Linked DNA regions of Homo sapiens. The protein of the gene in region 1 purifies or fractionates together with the protein of each later gene. This does not show direct contact. Each region holds a gene or a part of one and is shown on either strand. Other genes may lie near its edges. The genes, in order: PIP4K2A, PLCD3, ZRANB2 and MTMR1.

Region 1 (7,021 bases):
GGGGGCTCAGGTTATCAGTGTTAGGGAGAGTGTCTGCGTGCGGGGTAGAAATGGAACATTCGCTGTAGGTTTTTTCCTTGGAATCATCATCATTATTATAATAATCATCATTATTATCTTCATTATTCTGAATACTGTCTCACATCTTTCAACTCCAAAAAAAAAAAAAAAAAAAAAAAACTGATCCACAGTTTGTTGTGTGATGCCAACACGGTGCCTGACATCATGCACTTCCTTCTCCCCTCCCCCACACGTGTGTTCATTCACTCACTCACTCACTCACTCATTCATTCGGCCATAGCTGGAATCAAAGGGTCTTTGTTGGGACACATACTGACCGAAGTGGATCTGTTTTAATTAATTTATGACTTTTAAAATGCACACGCGCGCACACACTCACCCCCCCCCAACACACACACACACACATATACACAAAGTCAGAAATAGCTAGAACGATGCTGGGAAAATCAGGTAGCTGTAAAGCGAGTAGCCCCCAAATCAGTCATCTTGGCCTGAAGATGTAAACAAGGAGGTTTGCTTCCTGCAAGATGAGTACTTCACTGAGTTTGGTTTTCATTTTTCCTACACCGAAGCCACCTCTGTCCATCCAATGTTCATGTCTGTCCGAGGCTGCGCAGGAGGTTACGTCAAGATGTGGCCAATAAAGTCCAAAAAGCGCTTTGAATACTGTTCTGGGTTCACGGTGGAGATCTCCGCGCCAGCCTGGGCAGTTTTTAAAAAAGGAAATATTGACATAGTGTTTATGATTTCCCCAAATTATTACTCAATATCTACAGCTATTTCCAATGGCAACTGAATATACAGCAAGCAATTTTCAAATCCATGCAGTCTCTGCTCTGAAAAACATCACTCAAAATATCTTGGCGCTCATGGTTGAATAAGCAAGGTTCTTACAAATCTGTGTCTGCAAATGAGACAAAGGGCGACAGGAGCACCAGATGCTACCACACACACCGGGGCTGTTGCAACTCACAAAAAAATCAAACAGGCCACGTTTGGGATGTTACTATCAAAGAGTGGAATTGTTCAGAAGTCACGGAAACAATACTTATGTTATACTTTTCAAGAAGGCAGACTGGAGCCACCTTGAGAATGACATCAACATTTGGCGAAAGGGAAACCTTAATGACGATGACTTAAAACCGCATGATTTCTTCAGGACCCCTTCGTTTCTGGACAGAGGCCCCCAGCTCAGTGCTCAAACATGAGGGGCAACAGCAGCAGCCACAGGTTCTGGGACAGCTGCCCCCAGCCCATTCCCTGCACCGTAACCAGGTGAGGCACAACACTGCTGGCTCCATCTTGCCCACGGGGGAAGGAGCTGACTTCCCTCTGCAGCAGCACACAGGGGTGCCACTGTTCCCCTTTCTGAGCCCTGCAGAGAGCAAGCAAGCCTGGCCCCCTGCAGAAGCACGGTGAGGGATTTTTCCATGATGAGATGCAGGGTGCAGGCCAGCACACTCAAGGGAGTCACTCACTGGCCAGTTTCCTGAGCTGCAAAGGGCAAGCACGGAGTTTTGCTAAGTGAGCATGTGCTGTTTTTAGACACCCATGTTCACCGGGGAACTTGTAATATTTCCAGGCCTCGGCTGCATGGAGGAGCCCAGGCTTGAATGCAGAGAGAATGGTCCCCCACAGCAGCTTAACACAGCGTTCCTTTGCTGACAGTAATGTTTTCTTCTTGCAAACTACCTGTGATTTTATGCCGTGTGGCACACTATGGAGGCGAACTTGTGGCTTATGGGGAGATGAACATGGAGCCATATTGGCTAGGATAGGAGAGATGAACATGGAGCCATATTGGCTAGGATACACTCCAATTTCACAGGATGTATAATATGGGAACAGACATTTACAAAGCATTTGTCCAGACAACTCTTGTATCTCTGGCAAAACCCCATCAGCAAGGCAGTAGGATTTCTGTATGAGGTGAAAAAACAGGAGCTCCAAAAGTGTCCCCTTGAGGTCATACAAGTGGGAAGGGTCAAACGAGGATTCCTCGCCAGTTCTCTCTTTGCCACACTCCATGGTTTTCAACCAGAGGTGAGCATCAGAATGACCATGGAGTCTTCTGAAGACCCCTCCCTCACCCTCCTGAACTGGCCTCAGAAATGACGGAATGGGGGTGGTGCACCTGGTGCGGATGTTTGTTTAAAAAGAGTACTCAAAAATTTCTGTTGGGGGGAAGCCACCAGGCACACTTGCTTACTGACGTGCTCGGGGGCGGTGAGGTCCCAGTCTGTGCTCTGCACACAGCAGGAATACCATAGCTATCGACAATGTGACTGAAATATTTCTTTGGCAAATAGAATACTGTGTTTGTTAGGCTGATTTCTATTTTAAAATAGAAAAGAAGAGGTTTCAAGTGAGTTTTTGGTTCTGGTGAATCTTCATTAGTTCTACACAGTCTGTGGGAAGCACCTCTTCTTCCAGGGCCAACAAACCAGGGAATACATTCATCTGTGTGGGGTGGGCTCTATGGCTTTCAGGACCTCTGCAAAACAAAGATGGCACCCTGCAATACAAGCCTGAAACTTGGCGAGCTGTAAAGTTCAGCCAGGCAGGAGGTGTTTGCAGGCAGGGCAAGGGGATGAGCATGAACACAGAGCCAGGAGGGGGCTGGGTCCGGGGGAGGAATCTCATCTCTGCCACTTGCTACTATGAGGCCCTGGCAAGTTACTCCTGAAGCTATTTTCCTCAGTTTCTCCAACTGACAAAAGCAGGTACACTACTATCTCTTTCATAGGCTTCTCATGGGGGATAAAATAGCTTAACATATGGCTAGAGCAGTGAAAACTCCCATCAAGCAACATTAACGGTGAGTAATATTATGCAACTTTGATTTTGCACTCAAGAGATTTCTGTAGTAGAAAAAATACAACTCACTGTGAGAAAAGAAATATTAATCCTGTATACTTGGGAAGTGTCTTAAGCAGACAATCATGCTTCAGTTTTGAATATTTCATATTAGAACACTTCATTATCTTCTTTTGCACTTTTATCTCTGGAACATTTTTCAAACAAAAAAGAATTTGTGTAACATCCTAGTGATGCGCATGCCTGTTAGTGTCCGCCATGTGTAAAAAGAAGAGATGTTCATGTTTAAGTGACTTCGCTGGAAGCCACAGGGAGCTGTGGTAAGAGCAGCAGTGAGCAGTAAGCGTTTGTGGGTTCTGTATCTTACGCTCAGAACATGACTTGCCCCCAGGGAACAAGCGTCACTAAAGGGCTTTGAATGGCTCAGTAGAAAGCAGCTCAGTGGCAGAAAGGAGTGATCCCTGAGTTACAGGTCACACAGAGGAGCCAGGAGAGAGAGAGAGAGAGAGAGAGAGGGAGAGAGAGAGAGAGAGAGGGAGAGAAAGAGAGAAGGAAACAAAATGGAGATACTCACGCCATGTTTAACAGTTTTTGCAGCATGGGCAGCTTTCTTTTTTGCATCATAATGAGTAAGGATGTCAATAATTGCCATGAAGTACACCTCCTTCCTAGGCGAGTCTGCAGAGACAGGAGAGCAATGACTGTGGGACATGTGACAACACCAGTGCCAGCATTGCTGCTGAGGGAGGGAGGGAGGGAGAAGTGAGCCTGGAGGGAGGGGATTCAATGGAACGCGGATGGAAGGAGTCCAGAGACAAACTCTACACCACCCCTGCGGATCCTGACTAAACACACAGCTTGCCTCTCTGACCCAGTCCCCCTGCAATTTAAAAAGAAACAACCCTAACAACTAAAAACATCATCACACCAGGGTATCAACAGTGGAGATCCAACGGTGGAACGGAGTCTTTTTTTTTTTTTAATTTGCATTTTCTTTAATAATTGTGTATTGCTTTGGTGTGAAGAAATATGCTATTTAAAAATACCCTATAAAACAGAACTAATTATGTACACTAATCCTTTACATCAAATGGTAGAACTGTTCATAATTCTCACTGGATACAGTATCAGAACTGGATAAAGGCATACATCCACTCCAATGTCTATTTTCTTTTTTTGAGACAGAGTTTTGTTCTTGTTGCCCAGGCTGGAGTGCAATGGTGCGATCTTGGCTCACAGCAACCTCCACCTCCCGAGTTCAAGTGACTCCTGCCTCAGCCTGCCGAGTAGCCGGGATTACAGGCATGCATCACTATGCCCAGCTAATTTCATATTTTTAGTAGAGATGGGGTTTCTCCATGTAGGTCAGGCTGGTCTCAAACTCATGACCTCAGGTGATCTGCCTGCCGCGGCCTCCCAAAGTGCTGGGATTACAGGCATGAACCACTGCGCCCGGCCCGTGTCTGTTTTCTATCCATTTCCAAAAATATGAACAGTAAGAAAAGTACATTTGACTATCTAATTTTCTGTGTTGAAGAAAACATTTTGGTGAGCAAAACAGAACAAAACAGAACTCAGATCCTCAGCTGATATGCCATTTGAGATTAAAAAACAACTGATGAGCCACAGTTTTTATTATTCAAAAACCAAGAAGCTGTTTTTATCCTATCACAAAAATATTTTGGTATTGTCACGGATAAGTTGCTAAGGTAGGATGTAATATTCAAATAACTGGTGCACCCAATCACCTGGATACGGTGGATTAAGATTTATCTGACTCTAGGGAAGAGGGCCATAGGCCCTTCCATGGGGGAGGACAGCAGAGCCAGACTCAGCAGCAAATCAGATTCCCACCCCACCCACAGGGCCCATCTTCACACACCCTTCACACCCCTGAGAGGGAGAGGGCTGTTGGTAATGACAAGAGGACAAGCTAAGGGTCACAGAGGATCACATGCATGTGCCTAGCTTAGACTCATGATGCTTTTGACTTAGATAAAAAAGATAACTAGGCAAAAACGTATTAATATTTTAAAGCATTTCTGATGTTATTTGTGAACATGTATGTGTGCATATGTACATGCATGTTGTGTTGTGTGTGCACGTACGTTGTATGCCAGTGTGTATGTGCATATGTACAGGTGTGTTGTACATGTATAGTATAGTTCGTGGTTTTGCTGTATTCCCTCAACATCACAGAATTCAAAGGTCCGATCGCCTTATGTTTCAGCACTGAGATCACGGTTAGCTTTAACATACTCTTGTCCCCAAATCCATTTCTTTGGAGTTTGGAGGATGAGTGCTGCCGGGCAGCACCCTCATAACTGGGGTAGTGCTTACTGGTAGATAACAAGGCCAAAGTCAAACCACTTCACATGCAAAAAGGGTCCACAGTAATCAAACTTACTTTCATGGCACTTAATTCCATAGACGTCGATGTTCGGATCGAACTCCCCGGGAGCCAGGGGTGGTGAGCTGTTCAGTGTATTCCCGGGGCTATCTGGGGGGGTTCCCACCGGGTGGGTGCCATCGCTCTCGCCCTCCTCCTCCCCATCGTTCTCCTCACACTCCACTTCCTCCTGTTCGGCTCTCTCCACATCATGAATTCCCACCAGCAGACTGTAGTCCATGAGCTTCAGCTGGGCCAGAAACTGGGGACAGAGGCAACAGGGTGAGTCAGCCACACCTTAAACATAAAAGCCAACATTTAAAGGAGACAAGCTCGGGTGACACCCAGAGGGAAGGCTGTGGGGTGGGGCAGCAGAGGCGCCGGGTGCCTCCTTCACGATGCTCTTACACTCCTGGGCTGTTTCTCTATCTAAAATGTAGCCTCACACTTCAGGCTGGCTCAGAGCTCAGGCTGTTTACCCTGGAATGCCACACTGGATGCGGAGAGGTGTGTATCTATCACAGGGTGGCTGGATTTCACCAGATAGCAAGGAGCATGACCAGTAAGAGATGCGGAGAGAGACTGGGAGAGAGAGCAAGTTCCTCCCAATGATTAAGACTGGCTAATGGGGAAACCCAGGCATCTCCCAAGTAGCTTCCAGCGGAGTCTCTGGTGGTAGTTCAGGAAAGCACCCTGGAATTCAGCATGCTCTGTGGAGGCGATTGTTACGCTGTTGTAAATAAGTAAAAGTAAAGGCACTGTGTCCACATCTGGTGAGTAATGCAGTCCTGTCCAGGTCAACAAGGTGCTTTCCACGTGTGCTTTCCACGAAGCACCACACATCCAGGATTCCTGTCCTCCCTCTCCTCCTCCAGCCGTGGCTAGAACATAATGTGGGGGCAAGACCCAGCTCTGTGTGTTTGGCTACTCCTGTCTGCCCAGTTCTTTGACTTTTCAGATCACGATTTCTCTTTGTTTCCCTTTTCTTATTTGAGACCTTCAGCACAACGTTCCAATGTTGCCATAAGATGTGGATGGTTGTGCTGAGTGCAAACAGTGGCAGCCCATCTGCGGGCTGGACCCAACTGGCTCCCTGACCCCGTGGCTGGCTGGCTCTGCACAGGATCCTGTTCCACTCCGACCTTGGGCTCAGGGTCCAGGAAGGTTCACGGTCCTGGCTCTGGAAGGACTCAGTGCCACCTCGCTGGGGAATGCAGAGTGGCTGAGCAGCCTCTGGGCTATGCTGATAGAATTTAGGAAGCAGATGTCCTCATGCAAAGGGCAAACAGATAAAATCACAGGTCTTGAAGTTCTGGCTAAAAATGAAATCAATTTGCTAAGCCCCGCAGAGTCATTTCTCCTCAGCCTGCTGGGAAGGAGTTCTGTCTCGAAACTGAATGAGAAGCCCCGATTCCTTACAGACGAGGAGAGGACCCCTGGGCACAGGGCTATCCCACTCTCCAGCTGGTTCCTGGTGCCTGCAATTCTCCATCAGCCAGCACCCCGCTCAGCCCAGCAAACTGGCCAGAGCTCCCACTTCGCTGCCTTCCCAACAGGAATCCCCCAGGGCCAGCTATATCTTCCCCAATTGTTTTGAGCTCAAAAAAGAGAAATCACACAAATCTTACACTCAAATATTTAAGCAAAGTGGGAGAAACCTGTTTGTTTAAAAATAGAGGCAAACCCCTCGTGGAAACAGCATGGGGCTCCTGCGTTCAGCTTTCTGGGTCCCAGAGAAGAGGGGAAGCCACTGCTCATCCCCCCTGGTCTTTCCCCAAACTCCCCCATTACAGT
Region 2 (7,021 bases), on another chromosome or scaffold:
CCTAACCCTTCATCCTCCACGTTGGCCCCCACAGCAGCTGAAGGGCCGGGTCCTGGTGAAGGGAAAGAAGTTGCCCGCTGCTCGGAGCGAGGATGGCCGGGCTCTGTCGGATCGGGAGGAGGAGGAGGAGGATGACGAGGAGGAAGAAGAGGAGGTGGAGGCTGCAGCGCAGAGGCGGCTGGTGAGAGCTGGGATGGGTGGGGTGGGGAAGGGGGGGAAGGTGGGAGGACGGATGTGGGAAGCGGGGGCCAGCTGAACCCCGCTGAGCCTGGTCTCCTAGGCCAAGCAGATCTCCCCGGAGCTGTCGGCCCTGGCTGTGTACTGCCACGCCACCCGCCTGCGGACCCTGCACCCTGCCCCCAACGCCCCACAACCCTGCCAGGTCAGCTCCCTCAGCGAGCGCAAAGCCAAGAAACTCATTCGGGAGGCAGGTAGGAGCTGGGGCACTGGGTGTCTGGGGGCGAGAGGGTGAGAGACCTCCTGAAGGGAGTCTGGAAAGGAGTTGAGGGGGCTTTGGGGGACAGTAAAGAGGTCAAGAGGACCCCAAAGAGGGGCTGGGCTGAGGGAATGAGGGCCCCGCACATGCCAGGGTGGATGGAGGGGAGTGGCACGCTGAGGGCGGCCTGCTGTCTGCCTTCAGAGCCCTGTGGTGGGGCCGGCCATAGAGGGTGATGGGTCAGGCTGGGCTGGGGGCTGGGGGAGCCCAGCAGCTGCTGCAACACTGGGGAGGAATTCCTGGGGCAGGTGATGCTGAGAGGACACATCACCTGGAGGACTAGGAAGCAGCCAGGTGAAGAGGGGAGAGCGCTTTCCAGACAGGAGGAACAGGTTGTTGAAGGCCTGGGGCCTTGGCCTGGAGAAGAATTCCAGGAACCACAGTGGAGCTGGAGGGCCGTGGGCATTCAGTGTACTTGGTTGGAACTTTGTCAGGAGCTGGGAATTGGGGGCTGGGGATGCAGGGCCAGGCTGTGTGGCTGGAGGGGGTCCCTGCAGCCTCCTCAGTGAGCTCCCCTCTCACTCTAGGTCAGAAGAGAGTGAGGAGCGGGGGCAGGGTGACCTGGGGACGGGCTTGGGCTCTGTTCCCTGGAGGTTACAGGCCGGGGCTTTGGGTGAGGGACCCCCGGAGTCTGTCACGGTCTCACCCCAACTCTGCCCCAGGGAACAGCTTTGTCAGGCACAATGCCCGCCAGCTGACCCGCGTGTACCCGCTGGGGCTGCGGATGAACTCAGCCAACTACAGTCCCCAGGAGATGTGGAACTCGGGCTGTCAGCTGGGTAAGTGGGGGCCACAGGAATGAGAGCAGGCGGGGTGCCACAGTGTGGGGGAGGCCTCAGCAGTGAGGGGCCCACACAGCCTTCCAGACGGTGGAAACACGCATTTTGTTGATTATTTTTAAAGTTGCCAGCAATGTAGGTGGGAAAATCAAATCAGGCTCGTTTGTTCTTGACAGTGTACAGGTCTCGCATTTTTATCATGGTAGAAATTAAAATCTCCACTCCCATGTCCCCCGGACACACACAACCCCCACACACCTGGCAGTCCCACTAAGTCAACACTGACAAGGGTGGGCTCTGGGGGACGCTGAGCCCCACCAAAGGAGGGCTGTATCGTCTCCTTGGGGTAAGGATGGAAACCCCAGGCTTCCTCAGACCCCTGGCTCTGACCCAAGCCTGGCCCTGAGGGTGGGGGCTTTTTTAGTACCTCCCACCCCAGTCTTGAGGGATCCCAGGGCAGAAGTACAGGTGACAGTGGGGGCTGGGTCCATGACCCCCTCCCCTAAAGTCATGGTGGGAGCAGAGCAGCACTAAGCAGACAGTGGGACCCCAGGCCCTTTGTAGAGAGGAATGCAGTCCCCTGAAACTGAGTAGTGAGAACAGGGCCGCTAAGAGCCCCTGCTCTGACCCTGCTGTGTCCACAGTGGCCTTGAACTTCCAGACGCCAGGCTACGAGATGGACCTCAATGCCGGGCGCTTCCTAGTCAATGGGCAGTGTGGCTACGTCCTAAAACCTGCCTGCCTGCGGCAACCTGACTCGACCTTTGACCCCGAGTACCCAGGACCTCCCAGAACCACTCTCAGCATCCAGGTCAGCAGGCTGGAACGGGCCCCAGTGTGGGGTCAGACTGGTTCTAGAAAGGCTCTTTGTGAGGTGGAGGAAGGCAAGGGAGGCTGGGGACATTTGGAAGTGAGGGTGGTGTGAGCTTGAGGCCCATGAGGGGATGGCCAAGGTGGGCGTGGGCCCCAGCCACTCCCTCCCTCACCCACAGGTGCTGACTGCACAGCAGCTGCCCAAGCTGAATGCCGAGAAGCCACACTCCATTGTGGACCCCCTGGTGCGCATTGAGATCCATGGGGTGCCCGCAGACTGTGCCCGGCAGGAGACTGACTACGTGCTCAACAATGGTGGGCAGCCACTGGCGGAAGTGGGGTTGGGGGAGACTGCAGAGAGCGAAGGGTGGTGCAGGGTGGGTCCTGGGGCCCCTGGGCTCTGACTGCCATCCCTGTGCCCTAGGCTTCAACCCCCGCTGGGGGCAGACCCTGCAGTTCCAGCTGCGGGCTCCGGAGCTGGCACTGGTCCGGTTTGTGGTGGAAGATTATGACGCCACCTCCCCCAATGACTTTGTGGGCCAGTTTACACTGCCTCTTAGCAGCCTAAAGCAAGGTTGGTGGAGGCTGGTGGGGATGGAGAGGGATGTGGGTCCAGGTCCTGCAGACCCTGTTCACCTTTGTGCCTCGAATTTCCTGCCCTGAAGCAGGCCCGGGCTGGGCCAGACCCCCAGGGTGCACAGAGGACCTGAGGCCTGGCTGTCCTCCCTACAGGGTACCGCCACATACACCTGCTTTCCAAGGACGGGGCCTCACTGTCACCAGCCACGCTCTTCATCCAAATCCGCATCCAGCGCTCCTGAGGGCCCACCTCACTCGCCTTGGGGTTCTGCGAGTGCCAGTCCACATCCCCTGCAGAGCCCTCTCCTCCTCTGGAGTCAGGTGGTGGGAGTACCAGCCCCCCAGCCCACCCACTTGGCCCACTCAGCCCATTCACCAGGCGCTGGTCTCACCTGGGTGCTGAGGGCTGCCTGGGCCCCTCCTGAAGAACAGAAAGGTGTTCATGTGACTTCAGTGAGCTCCAACCCTGGGGCCCTGAGATGGCCCCAGCTCCTCTTGTCCTCAGCCCACCCCTCATTGTGACTTATGAGGAGCAAGCCTGTTGCTGCCAGGAGACTTGGGGAGCAGGACACTTGTGGGCCCTCAGTTCCCCTCTGTCCTCCCGTGGGCCATCCCAGCCTCCTTCCCCCAGAGGAGCGCAGTCACTCCACTTGGCCCCGACCCCGAGCTTAGCCCCTAAGCCCTCCTTTACCCCAGGCCTTCCTGGACTCCTCCCTCCAGCTCCGGAACCTGAGCTCCCCTTCCCTTCTCAAAGCAAGAAGGGAGCGCTGAGGCATGAAGCCCTGGGGAAACTGGCAGTAGGTTTTGGTTTTTATTTTTTGAGACAGGGTCTCGCTCCGTCGCCCAGGCTGGAGTGCAATGTTGCAATCATGGCTCACTGCAGCTTTGAACTCCCAGGCTCAAGCGATCCTCCCATCTCAGCCTCCTGAGTAGCTGGGACTACAGGCACAGGCCACCAAACCTGGCTAATGTTTAAATTTTATGTAGAGATGGCGGGGGGGGCGGGGGTCTCCCTATGTTGCCCAGGCTGGTCTCGAGCTCCTGACCTCAAGTGATCCTCCTGCCCCAGCATTCCAAAGTGCTGGGATTACAGGTGTGAGCCACTGCCTGGCCTGGCCGTAGGTTTGTAACTGTTTCATAGAAGAGCCCTGGAGAAGACAGTAGAATGAGCCTATCTAGTTTAAAAAATAAAGAAGCACGTTGATTTCACCACCGCCACTCCCTGAGCACCTCTATGCTGCCACCCCCACAGGCCCATGAGGAGGGACAGGGCTGGATGAGTTTCTTGGGCCTCTCCCCTCAACAGGGCATGGACTTGGCTAAGACAGCCAGGGGGTGGCAGCAGGAGATGCCACAGCTCTAAATAGCCCGATCCCTGCTCCTGGCTTAAAGCTGCTGCGAGTATCACAAGACTGTCTGAGGATGCCAATTCAGCAGGTCAGCGCCTCCCCACAACACACACACACACACACACACACACACACTCACACATACACAGAGGGGCCTTGAATGAGGAGGAGACAGGAGTCTGAGGGACCCTCAGACTGCCACTCTCCAGGCTTGGCTGGGCTCAAGGCCCCTGTCTGCTCAGTAGGGCAAATCCCAAGGACACGGGCTTCCCTTCCTCCAGCCAGCCAGCCTTTTACACAAAGGCTGGAAACGCTGCTTGGGCCGCCTCTATAGAAATGCCAGGAGAGCGCACTGGACACTAGGCGACAGAATCTGGAGAAAATCCTGCACCCGCCCCTGCCAGCAGGGTGAAATGTGGAGGCCTGGTGTTTTAGGTTCTGCCAGCCAACAGTGCCGGCACTGGACAAGGGCAGAACTTGACATTAGTCCCCAGAGGGTGGCCTGGAACTGGGCTGGGATAGGCCTTGAACTGGCCCCAAGCCCCACAGAAACCAAAACACAGGGCTGGGGCAGACTCCACCTTCTAGCAACTCCAAGAACTAATGCAGAAAGTGGCAGTGTCCCCCGCTCCTTCATGCTGGGAGTGGCGTTTGGCTCTGGTTAATTTGTGTGTCTGAAAGAGGATAATCAGAATCAAAAGGGCCCAGAAGGAATGGGCCGAGCCAGGCGGGCCGGGCCAGGCAGCCCGGGCATCTGGCACTCAGGGCTGTCAGAGGGTCAGGCTGCCAAACTGCAGCCTCAGGATGGGAGGCACAGTGAGGCTAAGTCCAGTTTTAGCAAATGAAGAGCCATTAGCATTGCCCAGCCCCTGCAGAGCCAGGTCTGGCCAGGGGCTGGCTGGGGGGTCTGGGTCAGGTGAGCACCAGACCCAGGGCTGAGTGCCCATCCTGCTTGGCTTCTCTGGTTTCGTATCTGGTACCAAGAGGAAGGGGTGAAGGCTAGGATGAGGGCCCAATACTGAGAAGGCTGCCTTGAAAGGGCAAGAGTCTTTTTTTTTTTTCTTTTGAGACAAAGTCTTGCTCGTCCCCCAGGATGGAGTGCGATGGCGTGATCTCGGCTCACTGCAACCTCTGCCTCCCGGGTTCAAGCGATTCTCTTGCCTCAGCCTCCGGAGTAGCTGGGATTACAGGCGCCCGCCACCATACCCAGCTAATTTTTGTATTTTTAGTAGAGACGGGGTTTCACCATGTTGGCCAGGCTGGTCTCGAACTCCTGACCTCAGGTGATCCACCCGCCTTGACCTCCCAAAGTGCTGGGATTACAGGCGTGAGCCACTGCACCCAGCCAAAAGGGCAAGAGTCTTTAAGGAAGTGAACTGGGAAGCAGAAGCAAGGGAGAAATCACAGGGTTTTTTTTTTGTTTGTTTTTTTGAGATGGAGTCTCGCTCTGTCGCCTAGGCTAGAGTGCAGTGGCACGACCTTGGCTCACTGCAAGCTCCGCCTCCCGGGTTCACACCATTCTCCTGCCTCAGCTTCCCAAGTAGCTGGGACTACAGGCGCCCACCACCATGCCCGGCTAATTTTTTTGTGTTTTTAGTAGAGACAGGGTTTCATAGTGTTAGCCAGGATGGTCTCGATCTCCTGACCTCGTGATCCACCCGCCTCGCCCTCCCAAAGTGCTGGGATTACAGGCGTGAGCCACCATGCCCAGCCTGAAATCACAGCTTTTTATCCCAGAGGCCCATGGGTAGAAACAACACATAGGGCTATGTTCTCTCAGCCCAAAGCTAAGGGCAGGAAAAAAGGCATGGGCCATAGGAGCCTGAGTGACTTGGTTTGGGACAGGAGGGTTGGGGGGCTTTAGAGGGGTCAGGCAGGTCCTGTGTCCTCTCAGTTTCCCTGGAAAGGGGCTTGGAGGCACCAGTCATGGACCTGAAAGGATCAGGGGGTCAGGGAATGGGTAAGTTCCAGAGGATGAGAAGAGGGGGAATGGGAAGTCTTAAACACAGCTACTGGGGCCCAGCAACTTGCCATGTTAAAATGCACCCCTAGTGACTCAAAGAACCACCCGGCCAGTGGTGCAGGAGGAGAGATGTGGCACCTGGGCACAGTGGGAAGGCACGGGGCCTGCACCTCCACCAGAGGAGCCACTGCTGACCTGGACCAAGGGGGCTGCTCTGTGCCCAGCTAGGGAAGCCTGGGCCGGCTCCTGTGCTGAGGTGCTCAGGTGCTGGCTGAGAGCCCAGTTGCTGCTCTAACTTGGAGTGAACCTGGGTCAATAGCAGCTCGTCTCTGGCGGGTGGGAAGGGTCTGACAACACCAAGTTTGCCCTGGAAGAAGGGCAGCCTTAAAGGAAGGCCTTTGGAAGCTGGCCTGGTGCTGTGGGCTTGAGGGACTTTGTGTCCAAGCCCTGTCGTCCTGGCTCCAGCCTAGGCTCCAGCACTCCATTTCTTCCACTGCCACCTGCTGACCAGGAATACCAGGACAGAAGGTTTTGTTCAGCTGCTTTCTTTATTAGAAACAAGTGAGATGTATTGAGCAGAACAACAATGCATTTGGTATTTCCTCCCCGACCCTGGAAATGGATGCCCCCCCACAGCCCAAAGAAAAGCCAAGACAAAAAGGTGAAGCTCCCCCGTCCCTGTTCCCAGACATGGCACCTGCCTGCCAGCCAGTCAGTATTTTTTAATTTAATGGAATGAAATTGTCCTCAACAGCCTCCGTAGGTGTAGTCGGCTTGCAGGCCCGCCTTCATTTTGCAGCAGAGTAAAACTGAAGCCTCAGGCCTCCCCTGGTTCTGGGGAAGGTGGGCCAGGCCATCAGAAGGCTGCCTCACAGGTGGGTAGGCACTGACGGGAGGGACACTCCTGCTCCCTCCCCTGATCTAACATCTGGTTCCCCTCCTTCTCCTAGAGTGCAGCTCCATGCAGTTGTCCAAGGCCTTTGGGCCCTTAGGTTGGTTAAATGCTGGTCGTCTTTGGGGAAAGAATTCAGGACCACAGGGA
Region 3 (7,957 bases), on another chromosome or scaffold:
CCTACCTATAATTAGACTTAATTACTTACGGCACACAACTTATGAATCTAACATTATTTTGTAAACAGGCAAAATGAGTTTTGTGGTGTATTTCACACTAACTATACAGTCTAAAAATTGGGATTTTTCAATAAAGGAAGTAATAGGCCTTAGTACTTTTAAGTACCACCACCCCCCGATTGGTTTTGAGCTTACCATAAGCATTTGTTTACTGGTATACATAATCCATCATAGTGACAACTATTACCATTAAAAAATGCAAAGAATAATTTAAAACTTCTTTATACTATACTTAAAGATGAGACTGAATAACAATACCTTGGATTTAAAAGGTTACCCTGGCTTGTCAATGTCACTAATAAGAGCTGTAATATAAACAAGTAGTGGCCAGATCTATTATTTTGGAAGAAAGAGCAGACAATAATTTAAAAAACATACGTTTTACATTGCCAGTCATTAGCACTAAATAGGCCTCGGCTCTTTTCTGCAAGTGTCTTTCCTATTTCAGTGCCCCCAGCTTTCATCATCTTGGCCTCAGTTGTTTTCTCTGAAAACAGAAAAATCATGCAATATGAACCTGGAGAAATAAATAAATGATACATATACAGTATAAATAGAATCTTCTTTAAATACTTACCCCGACCACATCGATTACAGCTGGTTCTTCTAGCAAAGTTTACATTTCCACATCTAAAAACAGATTAAAAAGCATTTATAAAAATTTAAATTTGTAAAATTTTACATTTTAACTTGTCCTCACTACATATCTGGAATTCATAACTTCTAATCCATCTTAGTCATGTTAATGTCAATGTTACCAACAAAAAACTCCACACAATTTACTGGGGGAAAAATACTTGATTGGAGCCACAAATTCAGAATAAGATATCCCAATCCTCCATTTACCAGTCATGTGATCTTGATTAAGTTACTTAGGATCTCTGCCTCAAGTCCTCACATTAGCACATATCATTAGTTATAATCCCTTTACAAAGTTGAAAGTGAGAGTTAACTCCACTTCACTAATTACTTACAAGCTACCAGGGAGTTTTAAACCCTAGCGGTGGACCAATGAGGAAAAAAACTTATAAATCAAGGAGGGCTTCATGGATCTTAATGAAATTATCTTTTTACATGCAGTAGGTAGGATGCTAAGGAACCAAATATGATAGGTTGTACTGACTAAAAATACAAAAAGATTCAATAATTGTAAGAAAACTGAGTTTTACAGGGCATTTCTCAAACCTCTGAGACTTCGCTGAAAAAAATGACACAACCACCAAAACCAATAATCTCAACACATGTAGTACAGTAAGACTTTATGCTTATACTCAACAAACTCAAACCTAAAGAATTACTGGTTCACTCACATGACCTTAGAAGTGTACGTGTATATTGGTAAAAGTATGTTAAATGCTCTGGATAACATGGAATGCTTAAACTTTAAAAAGCTGATTTTTAAGGCATTATACTAGAATACAATACAGATGTGAAGTATGGGATGACACTAAAGTGAAACACTCTAAATAATATTTAGGTTAAGTTTTTCCCCTAAAAATATTCCTTTTAACTCCATTAAGCATGGAAAATATACTCTGAAAATTTATCCTGCATTTAAACATATTGTACAAACAACATTCTATTCATATATTTGTAAATGAGTTGAAATGAACTCTCATTGAGAGTCCTACCTCTGGGTGTGCTGTCATTAAAGACACTGACAAAAGCACATTATTTTACAGGTAACAACAAAGTCAGAAGTTGTTGTTCTAAATCTTTTGAACGTTTTCAATAATGTCTTACCACTCAGAGCAATACTATCCATAACATATAACTTTGGTTCTATTCAGTATCATTTGTTAGGCTTGAACTACTCCTTCAGGTCATCTTAATATCAAATTACTATCAATAGCCACCAATTAGAATTTGCTACACGTCACTGTTTACACACCCTATCCATGTTATTTCATGTTTTCATTAAAAAAAAAATTCTATTCCTTTTTTAGCAGTTAAATAAGTAATAGAATTTTAACTAAACCCAGGTTTATTTCAAAGTTTTTGCTTTTTACAATCAAAACCTATTTGTGGCTAACTTAGGTACAACAAATAAAAGGCTTTTATGTGAACATGAGTTGTACATTAAATTATTTTCCATGTTATTTCCGAATAGATACACCTATTTGTGCACCCTTCAAAAAAAATCTGATTAACTATCTAGTCGAGTACTGGCTTTGGCAACAATGTCAAAAAGCAGAGCCACTAACACACGTGCTTCTCTGCTGCAGGCATCTTAAGGGCTGAGTAGGCAAAAACACAGGCCTCTTCCCTCCTTTTCGGCTCTAAGGAGGCGAAAAGCCCAATTCTTGTGGAGAAATGATCCACAAAGAAAATGTCAGAATTTCCCAAACCGAAGAGGGTAGAGCTTCCGGAAAAGGGGAAAATAGTATGGAGGAAAAGTTTGAGTAAAAATACAAAACAAGGTGAACTATAAGAGGCAAAAGGACGAGTGCGAGAAAGCAATATTTTCCGTGAACAAGAGTAAAGTTCTGCAGAGAAAAGTCACGTGGGGGAGATCCAACACCAAGCTGGCCTGACTGGAGAGGTTTCCTATCGCTAAAACCTGGCCGGGGCGGGGGAGGGGGGTGGGGGCAAAAAGGTAGGCCATCTCGCACTCTAAAAAGAGAGGCTACCTTGCGGAGGTAATGTCGAGGAAACGCTGAAGACATATCTAGAACAAAGGCTCCCGGAAAGACCTCTCTCGTGAGGAGATTGGGAGCCTTCTTCCCGCCAGGGAACTGGCGGTTCGCCGCCTCAACCCGTCTTAAGGCACAGAAAATCATAAAAAAGGAAAATGCCGGACGGACCTCGGAAAGCTTCCACTAACAAACTCCGTCCCAATTCAGGACCCTTCTTGAACTCACTTTTTGTCAGGGCAAATCCAGTCCCCGTCACTGACTCGGAAATTCTTGGTCGACATCTTGAACGCCACCAGCACAGCCACCCGCAGCTATGTCTTCACAGGAGGAAAACGGGCCGGGGACTTTCGGCAACTCGGGGCTGTCCCCACACTGCCTGACTCGCGCCTACTACTGTGTCAGGGTTTGATAATGAGGGAACTAGCCAGGAATTCAGCTTGTACGTTGTTGTCCAGACTAAGATGCCTGTGCTACTGTTTGTTAGATGGAAAAGTTAAAATACAAATATCTTTTCTAGAACTAAACTCACAGGCGCCATAAGGACAACCCAGGCAGGAGGCCTTCGTGGCACTAGAAGCCTCGGAGAGCCCCCTACAGGTGGGAGGACCCAAGAGTAAAGTACTTCCGCTTCCTTAGGTGGAGCTGGAAAGGTGGAGGCGGAAGTGACTGATCAATTCAGGGGCGTGGGGTTCGTTTAGGGTAAGAGGCGGCTCGGGCTCTTCAAGTGTTTAGAGAAATTATTTTAATAAGGCATAAAAATTCTGTTATTTCATACACATGGGATGTCGTTTGGAAACCTATTTTTATATATACATAAATAGGTGTAACAGATAAGTAAGCAACTTATACATGGGAACCAGCTGGTAATTTTAAAACTGAGACATTGTCAACACTGTTTAAATTACCAGTGTCTTTTCTGATACCATCCCATTACTTTCTTCCACAGATAACACTTTCCCATATTTGGGATTTATTCTTTTGCTTTTTAAAAATTTATGTACGTTGTTAGTCCAAACTGCACCATTTTTGTAAGCCCCCCTGCCATTTTGCAGACCTTAGTCAAAGTGAAACATTCCACGGGGTTCGGGCGTGAGAAACAGGCTGCCTCTTATACTCTGCTGGGAGAAAGTACCACATTCCACTGGAACAAGGGCCAGAGCCGCCTCGTCCTGGGAACACCTTATCAACATGTTCCCAGGAAGCAGGCCATGGCCCCCCAGACCACTCCCACCCAGGCCTATAAATCACCCCAGCCTGTAAGAAGCAACGGGCACTGGCATTAAGCTGGTCTCCCACCTCTGTAGGTCTTATGCTGGACATAAATCCTGTATTTGTTGTTAAGCCACCCTCTCTTTCTTTAATCCTTGCCTTCCCTTCAAAACCTAACATACATGTATGTTTAATTTTATGAGCTGTGTAAGCATAGTTGATTCTGTACTCTTTTTTTGTTCATTATGCTTCTAAATTAATCCTAGGTAGTTGCATGTAGAAGTGTATAGGTGTAATTCTTTTATTTGCACTGATGTATACTGATACTATTCCGTTTTGTGGTTTTGTGACAGTTTATTCCTTCTGTTTCTCAGGCTTGGTATTACAAACAACACCAGTATGAGCATTCTTATGCATAGATTCTGGTATATAAATGCATTAATTTTTTTTAGAATACAGCATATACAGTCATGCCTCACTTAATGATAGGGATATGTTCTGAGAAATGCCACTTTCGGCAATTGTGCTGTTGTGTGAACATCATAGAATGTGCTTACACAGGCCTAGCAGGTATAGCCTACTACACACCTAGGCTATATGGTATAGCCTATTGCTCCTAGACTACAAACCTGCATTTAGTACATCTTATTGTACTAAATACTGTAGGCAGTTGTAACGCAGTGGTATTTGTGTATCTAAATATAAAGGTACAGTAAAAATATGGTATTGTAATCTTATGGGACCACCTTTGTATATGTGGTTCATCATTGACTGAAATGTCTTTATGCAAGTATGATTATGTTTAGGAGAGAAATTGTTCAACTACTCTCTAGTTATGATTGTTGCTTTAAAATCTGTATTATAACATTTTGGTCATCTAGGAGTTAGCAGGTGTTGATTATATTTTCCCTTGCAAGTTGGTCACATTTTTCCAGTTCTTTTATACTGTGTAATTGTGGATTTTATCTAGGACATTTTGAACATTATGTTGCATAGACTGAGTCCTGTTAAAAGCCTTTAGGGAATGTTGATTTTTTTTTGTTTTAGAAGGCAATCGATCCAATTTGGTTCAGGTCAAAAGTTCGGTCTCATCTTCTATGAGTACTGGTTCCATGTCAGCTGGGTTTTCAAAGGCTTTGCTGTGTCCTATACCTACAATACTCAGGGATTATTTGGGGATGTTAGCAGTAGTTTAAATTGAAATTCAGTTTTGCTATGCTATTTTGTGTTTGTTCTGCACGTGTTCAGTTTAGGTGTGAACACAGAACTTGTATAGGTTCATACATAGAATTAGGGGATCCTCTTCTCTAGCTCTCTCCTCTTACATTCTTCTCCTTTTGTCTCGCAAGGTCCTCTCACCAGAAATATGAGGTTCCTCTTGGAGTTTTAGCAGCCTGGCATAGCAGCTGACTAGGGCAGATTCTGAGACAAAGCAGTGACAGAAAAGAGAGAGAAAAAATGTGGATTCCCTCTACACTCTTCAGACCACAAAGGCCTCCTTTTCTACTTCCTTTGTCCATAAAAACAGAGCTTCTGTTAGTATTGTAGATACCCAAGCCTAGGGCCTCACTCTTGGGCCAATGCCCAGAGAGAGAGAGAGAGAGAGAGAGAGAGAGAGAAATTAAAAAAAAGAAAGAAAAACCAGAAGAGGGGGAGCTAAGTATTCCCCCGACTAACTTTTGGCTCACAAAAGCCCCCTATCCCCATTCTGGCAAGACATACAGGTTTCTGTCGGTTTTTCCTGTCACCACAGTTTCACTAGGTGTTGGGCCTTAGGTCAAAAGCTGTGAGAAAAGAGGAAAAGCAAACATACAGAACATTTCTCCAGGTTTTCATTCTCCACTCCAATTTACCTGTTTTTGTTTTTGTTTTTCCAGAGTCTTCAGGCAGTTGCTTTTGGTATTTTGTCTTGAGTTTCTCACTGTAATCATTAGGAAAGATAGGTTATTGTGGGCTTTCTATGTCTTGGTTGGTACTGCAAGTCAGGGGAATGCAAATTAAAACCATATGATACCATTATGCATTCATCAAACTGACTAAAATGAAAAATCAGAGAATACTAAGTGTTGGAAAGCATGTAGAGCAACTGTAATTCTCATACATTGCAAAAAGTAATTGATACATCTACTTTGGAAAATGTCGGAATATATTAAATCTGAACATTTTCGTACACTATGACCCTGAAATTCCATTTTTAGGTATATTACCAACAGGAATGCACATAATGTTCACTGAAGATGTATATAGTAATGTTCAGAGCTGTACTATTCAAAATAGCCCAAACTGGAAGCTTCCCAATTGCTTATCAGTGGTAGCCTAGATAAATAAATTGTCATATGTTTACACAGTTGGAATGTGTAATACAGTAGCAAGAATAACAAATTACACTCAGATTATTGAACAGTATTTCACTCACAAATACAGTCTTGAATTGAAAAAAGCAAGACACAAAATGGCATATGCTATATGACTCCATTTACATGAAGTTCAAAAGCAGCCAAACTAATCTTGGATAGTGATCACCCTTGGGAGTAGAGAGGAGATAGTGACTTCATGGGGTCAATAGGAATAATAGATGCCAAAGCTGGTAGATGACATGCAGTTAATGCAACAACAGTTAATCAACTGTACTAACTGTAATTAGCAAAATTTTTCTGGGAGAATTATGTGTCAAGAGAAAAATCCTCTATAGTAAGTCTAGGATAATGAACAAAATGCGTGAATACATCTGATAATGACCAGAAGAGGTTATTTGAGTTCAAGGACTTTAGCTGATTTTTCAAAGAGAAATATTCCTACAAAAGAAATTCATTTCAGCTATCCTAATTTGAAAGAAAAATTCTACCCATTCTCTTTATTCTTATTATATGCTCACCAAACAGCCCTCTGATAATTTGTCTTCTCTCCTGAGCACACTTAACCTACTGTGGTGAAATTCCCAGAGTGAATTTATCCACACAAGTTGTTCATCTGGATTAAGCTCTCTTTATAGATTGAGAAATTGGCACTCTGAAATGCATATCAGTTGTTTATGGGTCCTCTTAATATGTTGGTCCCCAGGAGATTAGCTCTGGTGGAAATGGTAAAGTTGAGTTTCTGAACCTACAAAGCTAAGAATCTGGCTCTAAATATTGCATTAGGGCTCACTCTGCTTGCAAGTAACAAAAATAAAAATAAAATGACTTAAACAACAAAAAGGGGGAGCATATTATAAAGAGAAGGTGGTGTTTGATGGAATGCCAGAGCAGGAATGCAGTTTCAGAAATATCCTAAAAGAAACTATCCTCTATTCAAGCAGCACCCTTTCTCTGTCTCTTTGCTGAATTTGTTCTGCATATGCGTTATTCTTTCCTCAGACTAGCTTTTCTGTTACCTAGTTCAGAAGACTGAAAAAAAAAAAAAAAGCAATACTGCCCTTAGACCTGGGCAACCAGGGCTCCTAGCCTGGTCCTGCACCTGGCCTTCCTTGAGGTGCCCTAATTCCCCTCGAGTGTCTTGGACCATTCAGCAGGATGGAGCCAAAATGTAGTACTATGTGGGTCCTGGACAGTGGAAGTCCTGAGATGTTCTATTGCTTTTGGTGGTGGGGACCAGCCAGGTCAGCAGGACCTGTTGGGTGGGACAGTCCTAAGCCTAAAGAAAATGTTATTGGCTTCTTTGTTTCTTCCCTTCAGGCCCTCCTGACCATATTGCCCTCTTAACATGCTCAGGGTCCACCAGTGCAGCAGGATCTCTGGTACTAGCACCTGTAGGGTGGCTTAGGGCCAGATGGCCCTGCCAGTTCCTGGAGAGCAACTTGGAGGGCCAAAGCTCCCACTGGCTGGGGCATTATTTCTTTCATGGCATTATTTCTTTCATCGCACAAGTTTGGGCCACCAGAATGATGCTTTTTCAGTGGTTTGAGGGTGATTTTCACTAATATCAGACACAGGATGAGTTCAGTGCTCTGGGCTACCACTGTCCCCCCATGCATCCTTGGTCTGGAGCTGACTGTGTGAGCCAGTATGTGGGCTCTTCCCTGACTGGTCAGACCAAGGAACCACCTCTAGTGG
Region 4 (6,988 bases), on another chromosome or scaffold:
GTATTCAGAAGAGAAGTGAAGGCCCCATAGTCCCAGGGACATGGCCAAGTCCCACCCATAGAGCCAGGTTCCATTCTAGAGGTCACTCTTCAAAGAAAAGTGTGAATCTGAGCTTGTTGAGCTGACAGAACTGAGAAAGGAGGCCATGATTCCTCCCCCATCCCTTCTCTGTAGTCTGTGCAATTGCCCTCTATACTCCTGGTGTCAATAACTACTTACAGGCTGGAGGCTCCCAGCTCTGTTTCTCCAACCTGGACTCTCCTGATCTCAATGCTGATGTTCCTACAAGACCTGTCCACTAGTCTGGCCCAGAGACCCTGCCAATTCAACCTGTCTAAACCAGCATCAGCCGCTCAGCCCCGCAACCTACTCTGCTCCTGTGTTTCCTAACTCAGGGCGCAGCACAGCCAGTTATCCGGCCCCCACACGCTAGAAAGCTGAGGTTTGCCTTGGAGTCCACCCGGCACTCCCCCCTCACATCTGAATGCTCACCATGTCGGGTCACTCTTACCTGGTAAGCATCTTGAAAATCCACCCAGCCCTATTCCTAGCCCAATTCCCTTTTCCAGACCTCCATCATTCTTCTGTGAACTCCACCTGCCTCATGAATTTAAGCCTCATCTATAAGCCCATGACTCCCCAGTTTGAATCTCCAGCCCAGACAACCCTGAACTCCAGGCTCAGATAGATCAACTATATCTTTGACATCTATTCTGGGACATATAATTGGCATCTCAAAATTGATATGTCCAGAGCGAAGAGCCTGCTATTTTCTAACCCTGCTCCACCTTAGAAAGACTTCTCCATCTCAGCAACACAATTTTCCCACAAGCTAAAATTTTGGAATTCTCCCAGATTCTTCTCTCATACCAACCAACCAATCTTCAGCAAACCCCATTGGCTCTACCCTGCAGGTCTTCAAATTACATGTAGTATCTGACCACTTCTCCCCTCCTCCGCTCCACTCTGGACCACCATCTCACTTGGCTTACTACAATAGCCTCCTACTGACAGTCTCTGCTTCAGCTCCTTCCCCTTTCACTCTATTGTCCACATAGCACCATGGAGAGCCTACTGAAATCTACAACAGATGATGTCACTCCTCTGCACAAAGTCCCCAGTGGCTCCCCATGGCCTCTGAGGCTCTCCACCATCTGGCTCTGTGACTTCTCTAACGTCATCCCTTACTTGTCTCTCCCTAGCTCCCTCCCTGCTAGTGACACCTAGTCTCCTCGCTGATCTAGGAACACTTGGCTCACATTCACCTCAGGGGCTTTGCACAGGCCTCTGACTAGAATACTATCACCCCCAGGTATCTGTATGGCTGGATCCCTCGCCTCTTTGGGGGCATTACTCAAATGTCAGCTTTCTCAGGCTTTCCCTGATCATCAAAATCTCTGAAGGAAACCAGAAGATGAGGCATATTTGGGGGTGACACATTCTGGTCTCCTTTGGCTTCTTAAATGATTCTGATGCATGCCCATCCTGAGTACTTCTGTGTTCGCCTCTACCACCTATCTCATTTATCACATTCGATTTCCACTGTTGGTTGGTTTGTATTCTCCACTAGATGGTAAGTCTAGCAAAATGGTAAGGCAGCAAAAGCCGTGTTGTGCTATTCTCTGAATCGCCCAGACCTCGTGTGTGGTTGAATATTTGCAGATGAGTGAAGTCCTCACCATTTCAAGTGCTGTCTTAGCTGTGACTGGTTTTCAGTGACACTAACCACTTGGGTGATTAATTTATTAAAATATATTGTAATTACACTGAGGTAGAAACAAAAGTGAAGGGAATGTTTCTTGTTTCTGTGCTTTTGGAAACTCCCAAAAGTTTGGCACAATGGGATGACCAAGACAGGCAGGAATGGGCATGTAAAACTGACTGAGCTACATTCCAACAGTGCATGCTGCCTGAGTGCACTCTGGTGTCAGGGAAATGGCCAAGTTGTGGGAAAACTGGATGTTCCGGGTTACACGATAGGCCATCTCTTGTCGTCGGAGGAGGCGGTGGCCCCTCCCAGTTCGACACGGTCACTTTATGTTTCTAACTGATTTCTCTTAGTTCTGCAGCTGCCTCAGAAGCAGTAGGCTTGCTTGTGTGTTCATGAAAACAATAAACTGGTTCCCTCAAAGTGTGAAGAACTGAAAGTAAATGGTTCTGTTTTCTTGCCTCCTGAGCAGTTTGGACGTTTTCCATCTCAGATTTTTGCCTCGATCTGCACCAGCTCCCACGCCCGCGGGGTCCCATCTCCCCGTCCTCACTCCCAACCCCCCATCAAAGACCCTAAGCAGCCACAGCAGAATTGGGGTCTTAAAACCACACGAGGCAAGGTGATGCTAGAAGAGGAGAGCCCGGGTGGGATCTCCCTCCCAAGAGGATTGGTGGCCTGGGCAGGGACAGCCAAGCGATCGCCAAGGGCAGCAGGTGGCGGCGCCGGAAGTGGTTTGACAGCTGCGAAGCCCCTCCCGGGGTTCCAGGAGCTGGGGCTCTCGGGGCGGAAGTGAGCCAGGTGCGCGGCCCGCAGCAGGTCCGAGGGCAGCAGTCCCCGGATGGGGCGCTGAGGTTTCCGGGGGTGGGGGGGAGGAGGGCCCAGAGGGGATGAAGAGGGGCCGCCCACCCCGCCACCGCCAGGCCCTGCGCAGCGCGCGGGGAGGGGGCGGGCTGGCCTCGCGCGGGGCCCTCGGGAGTCGGGGCGCGGGAGGCCGGGGCAGCCCGGGCCCCGCTTACCTGTCCAGGGTCTCCACGCTGGGCTGCCGGGAGCCGGCGGTGGCGCCCCCCGCGGCCCGAGGAGGCCTCCTGCCGCCCGCCGGCCCCGGGTTCGGGCCCCCGCCGCCCTCGCAGCCCGCCGCCGCCGCCGCCGCCGGCCTGTCCATGGCGCGCCGAGTCCTGCCGCCTTGGGGAAGCCGCCGTCGGGACGGGAGCGGCGGCCGGGAAGGTTTCGCTGCTTGCCTCCTGCCGCCCGCTCTATACCGCCCGCCCGCCTCAGGCGGCCGCCGCCATTAGCTGTCACCTGGCGGCCCCGCGTTACCCACAAGGCCGCGCGCGCGGGGGTCGGGGGGCGGGAGCGGGGGCGGGGAGGGCGGCGCGCGGGGCCGGCGCCGGGAACCCCCACCTCGCCCAGCCCCACCTGGGCGCTCGCCCACGGAGCCTTACAGCGGGGATCTGGGACCTCCTGCTCCAGCGACCTGGGTGCGTACAGAGCCACTGGGGTTCGGAATCCCCAAACGGATTATGCGTAGCGTGCTTCACTCTATAGTCACACCGGGTTGACTGCAGAGACGTGGGGTGTAAAAAGAAGTTTGAAGACATTCAAGTATCAAAAATGATTTCCCACCTCAGTTGTCCTTCCCGGAAAAGGTATAGAACAGCTCAAGCTCCCTCGGTCTTGACATCTTGAAGCAGGAGCAATTCCGTGCATTTTAGCAATTCCTCCCCACCCCATTCTTCCCTCCACTCTCCCCCTCCATACGCACCCCGCCGCCCCGCCACAAACCCACCCCCTTGCCATCTGTAGGGCAACCAAGTGTTCTGATGCCGCCCTCGGAGCTTCCGCCCATGGTTTATGTTAAGAGTAACATTTAACTTCTGTTGATTAAAAAATCACTGCTATGAACATCAAGCCAATATCTTGGTGAGGCATTTAGGACATTTGCTTTCTGGGCTAGATTTATTTCCTTGCTCATTTTGTTTGGGTTCGAATATCCAACAGCTCATCCCCTCTCACCTCACCCCTGATTAAGTTGGGAGTGGGTGTGTGGCTCGTGATTAAGCCTCTTTGCCTGTGATTGCTCTGGGTGTAGACAGGAGGCCTGCGACCCAGGTCTGGAAAAGAAGATATAAAGGGAACAATTTGCTCACTGTTAAAAGGCAGATCTGCAGACAGGGAGTTACTCATGCCCATCCCAGACCCATCCTGCCCCACCAGCTTAATAACTTCAAACTGAACTTTGAGGATATGATGCCTGAAGCCCCGACAGCCATCTTACGCACAAGAGGAGGTGAGCCTGGGGTAAGAAGATGACAGAGTGAGGAGGGCTAGGAGGAAGGAAAGGAAGATCCCCAGACAATAATAGCTCCTATCTCACACTGGAGAATCACCGACTGCAGGTTGCTGGCTTTCTAAAATTATTAAATCAAATGGTTAACCCACTGTTATGGACTGAATGTTTTCATCCCCCTGAAGTCCATATGTTGAAGCCCTAATTCCCTGTGTGATGGTATTTGGAGATGGGGTCTTTGAGAGGCAATTAGGTCATGAGGGCCAAGCTCTAGTCTGATGGAACTGGTGCTTTTTAAGAAGGGTCACCAGAGAGCTTGATCTCATGCACTCACATGCACACACTGAGAAAAGGCCGTGTGAGTACACAGCAAGAAGGTGGCCATCTGCAAGCCAGGAACAGAGCCCTTACTAGGTCCCTGCTGGACACTTAATCTTGGACTTTCCAGCCTCCAGAGTTGTGAGAAAATTTCTGTTGTTTAAGCCACCCAGTCTATGGTATTTTGTTTTGGCAGCCTAAGCACACTAAGACACCCACTTTTAGTTGGGTATTTTGTTACAAGTAGCTGCAAGCATCTTAGCTGTGCTGAGAATTGTCAGAAAGAAAACAGTGCAACTTTAAGCATATTTTAAGTACCATATTCTTTAAGAAACATTAGGCCAAAGAGGAATTCACTGTGACACTGTCATACTTCCAATTCAGTTAAGTACACTTAGGATTTAGAGGACAGAGATGAATCTGACATATCCCTGCCTAAGATGTTCACAATCCAGTGAAGGGGACAGACAAATTAACAATGACATTACAAGTTGGCAAGTGCTATAATGGGGACAATTGCACAGGATGTGGAACACCTACCCCAATCCATAGGAGAAGAGGAGGTCAGGAAAACTTCCCCAAAAAGGTGACATAAAACTGAATCTTTAAAGATGAGTAAATCCTTGATGAGGCAAAGGAGTCAAGTTATTCCAGGCAGAAGGCACAGTTATGGGCAAAGGTGTGGATTAGTAGGTATATTAATCTGTTTTGCTTTGCTGTAAAGGAATACCAGAGACCTGGTAATTTATAAAGAAAAGAAGTTTATTTTGGCTCACAGTTCTGCAGACCGTACAAGAAGCATTGTGCTGGCATCTGCTTCTGGTAAGGGCCTCAGCAAGCTTACAATCATGGTGGAAGGCGAAGAGGAAACAGGCATGTCAAATGGTGAGAGAAGGAGCAAGTGAAAGGTGAGGGAGGCACCAGACTCTTTCAAACGACCAGCTCTTGCATGAACTCATAGAACGAGGATTCACTCATTACCACGGGGAGGGCACAAAGCCTTTCCTGAGGGGTCCACCTTCAGGATGTTCACAATCCAGTTTGCAACCCAGACACCCCTTACTCAGCCCCAACTCCAACATTAGGGCTCACATTTCAACATGAGATTTGGACGGCACAAACATCCAAACTCTATCTGTAGGTTAAATAGCTTATTATGTGCAAGAGAATGCCAAGAAATCGAGTGTTACTGGAGCATAAAGTCAGACAAGATAAGTGAGGATCTGGACTGGTGGTAGGCCAAGAAGTTTGGGCTTTGTTCTGCAGCTCACCAGATCTCAAATGTTAGTGTGCAAGAATCAGCCCCAGTCTGCATTTTCAGCAAATGCTCCCATGATTCTGATGCGGGGCTTGCTGCACTTGGAGAAATACTATTGTATAGTCCCCCATCTACGTCCATTTGATAGATTGTGCTTCCAAAGACTGCTGCAATAATATCCCCCATCCCACACACTCTTTTGCAAGGTGATCTTACCACTCATACATCAAGAGGTGGATTCTGTTTACCTTCTCCTTGAATGTGGACTGGCCCTGTAACCCCTTTGACCAATAGAATGTAGCAGAGGTGATGCTGTATAATTTCCAAGGCTAACCCTTAAGGGATTTGCAACTTCCAGTTTGCTTTCTGTGCATACTCCTTCTTGGAAGTCAGCTGCCATACTCTGAGGAAGCCCAAGCAGCCACAGGGAGAGGCCCATATGGAAGAGAACCAAAGCTCTCAGCCAATAGCCCTAGCTGAGTTCCCCAGGCAGCATGGCCAGAAGCCAGCACTAACTGCCAGCTATGTGAGTGAGGCCATTTCAAGCCTTTCAGTCATTCTGGTGGCCTAGCCAACACCACATGAAGCTGATGAATCATACAATTGACTCACAGATTTTTGAAAACTAATGAATTATGGTTTTAAGCCACTAGGTTTTGGGGTGATTTTTTGTGCAGCAATAGAGCACCCAAGCATTGCTCTTGATGAATGATCCAGAGAAGTAATCCCCTACCTGCTCAGCTCCCTTCCCCATTCAGCTATAGGAATCCATGCACAAATCACAGCCACACTCCAAGGAGGGTACTCCACAGTAGTAGGTCAGAAGCTGTTATAATCTAAGATTTTACCCTACTAGCAAGCTGAAAATTTAGTTGATCACCACACTCTAACACTCTGAGAGAAAATATAAAGCCTCTGGATCCGAAACAAAGACAGTTTATTATTCACAGCAAAATCAGCAGCCACAGCAATATCTTGGATCTGCATCCTGAACCCCAGTCTCTACAGGGTGGCATGCTGTTCTGCAGTGCAACCTTGCCACTCTTACATTAAGAGGTGGTATCGGCTGGGCGTGGTGGCTCACGCCTGTAATCCTAGCACTTTGGGAGGCCGAGGTGGGCAGATCACCTGAGGTCAGGAGTTCAAGACCAGCCTGGCCAACGTGGCGAAAGCCCATCTCTACTAAAAATACAAAAATTAGCCGGGCGTGGTGGCACATGCCTATAATCCCAGCTACTTGGGAGGCTGAGGTAGGAGAATCGCTTGAACCCAGGAGGCAGAGGTTGCAGTGAGCTGAGATCCTGCCACTGCACTCCAGCCTGGGCGACAGTGCGAGACTCCGTCTCAAACAAAACGAAACAAAACAAAACAAAAACAGGTGGTACCTATTTCCCCTCCTTTTGAATGGGGGCTG

What was found.
Region 2: the proteins of PIP4K2A (region 1) and PLCD3 purify together in Homo sapiens (co-immunoprecipitation; 3 studies listed by BioGRID and IntAct, with this or other methods). This does not show direct contact.
Region 3: the proteins of PIP4K2A (region 1) and ZRANB2 purify together in Homo sapiens (affinity purification with mass spectrometry; 4 studies listed by BioGRID and IntAct, with this or other methods). This does not show direct contact.
Region 4: the proteins of PIP4K2A (region 1) and MTMR1 purify together in Homo sapiens (co-immunoprecipitation; 3 studies listed by BioGRID and IntAct, with this or other methods). This does not show direct contact.

What each region holds. Positions count from the first base shown.
Region 1 is NC_000010.11:22,536,559-22,543,579, forward strand, and holds part of PIP4K2A (phosphatidylinositol 5-phosphate 4-kinase type-2 alpha), read right to left. Parts: intron 5,490-7,021; coding exon 5,246-5,489; intron 3,517-5,245; coding exon 3,413-3,516; intron 724-3,412; coding exon 643-723; 3' UTR 1-642. UniProt on the Homo sapiens protein: Catalyzes the phosphorylation of phosphatidylinositol 5-phosphate (PtdIns5P) on the fourth hydroxyl of the myo-inositol ring, to form phosphatidylinositol 4,5-bisphosphate (PtdIns(4,5)P2). Has both ATP- and GTP-dependent kinase activities.
Region 2 is NC_000017.11:45,108,504-45,115,524, reverse strand, and holds the end of PLCD3 (1-phosphatidylinositol 4,5-bisphosphate phosphodiesterase delta-3), read left to right. Parts: exon of another isoform or gene 1-16; intron 17-34; coding exon 35-181; intron 182-280; coding exon 281-431; intron 432-1,023; coding exon of another isoform or gene 1,024-1,158; coding exon 1,159-1,275; intron 1,276-1,919; coding exon 1,920-2,086; intron 2,087-2,267; coding exon 2,268-2,403; intron 2,404-2,512; coding exon 2,513-2,662; intron 2,663-2,820; coding exon 2,821-2,909; 3' UTR 2,910-6,566; downstream 6,567-7,021. UniProt on the Homo sapiens protein: Hydrolyzes the phosphatidylinositol 4,5-bisphosphate (PIP2) to generate 2 second messenger molecules diacylglycerol (DAG) and inositol 1,4,5-trisphosphate (IP3).
Region 3 is NC_000001.11:71,078,019-71,085,975, forward strand, and holds the start of ZRANB2 (zinc finger Ran-binding domain-containing protein 2), read right to left. Parts: upstream 3,018-7,957; 5' UTR 2,978-3,017; coding exon 2,922-2,977; intron 691-2,921; coding exon 638-690; intron 548-637; coding exon 439-547; intron 1-438. UniProt on the Homo sapiens protein: Splice factor required for alternative splicing of TRA2B/SFRS10 transcripts. Binds to ssRNA containing the consensus sequence 5'-AGGUAA-3'. May interfere with constitutive 5'-splice site selection.
Region 4 is NC_000023.11:150,689,416-150,696,403, reverse strand, and holds the start of MTMR1 (phosphatidylinositol-3-phosphate phosphatase MTMR1), read right to left. Parts: upstream 3,009-6,988; 5' UTR 2,874-3,008; coding exon 2,728-2,873; intron 1-2,727. UniProt on the Homo sapiens protein: Lipid phosphatase that specifically dephosphorylates the D-3 position of phosphatidylinositol 3-phosphate, generating phosphatidylinositol. Could also dephosphorylate phosphatidylinositol 3,5-bisphosphate to produce phosphatidylinositol 5-phosphate.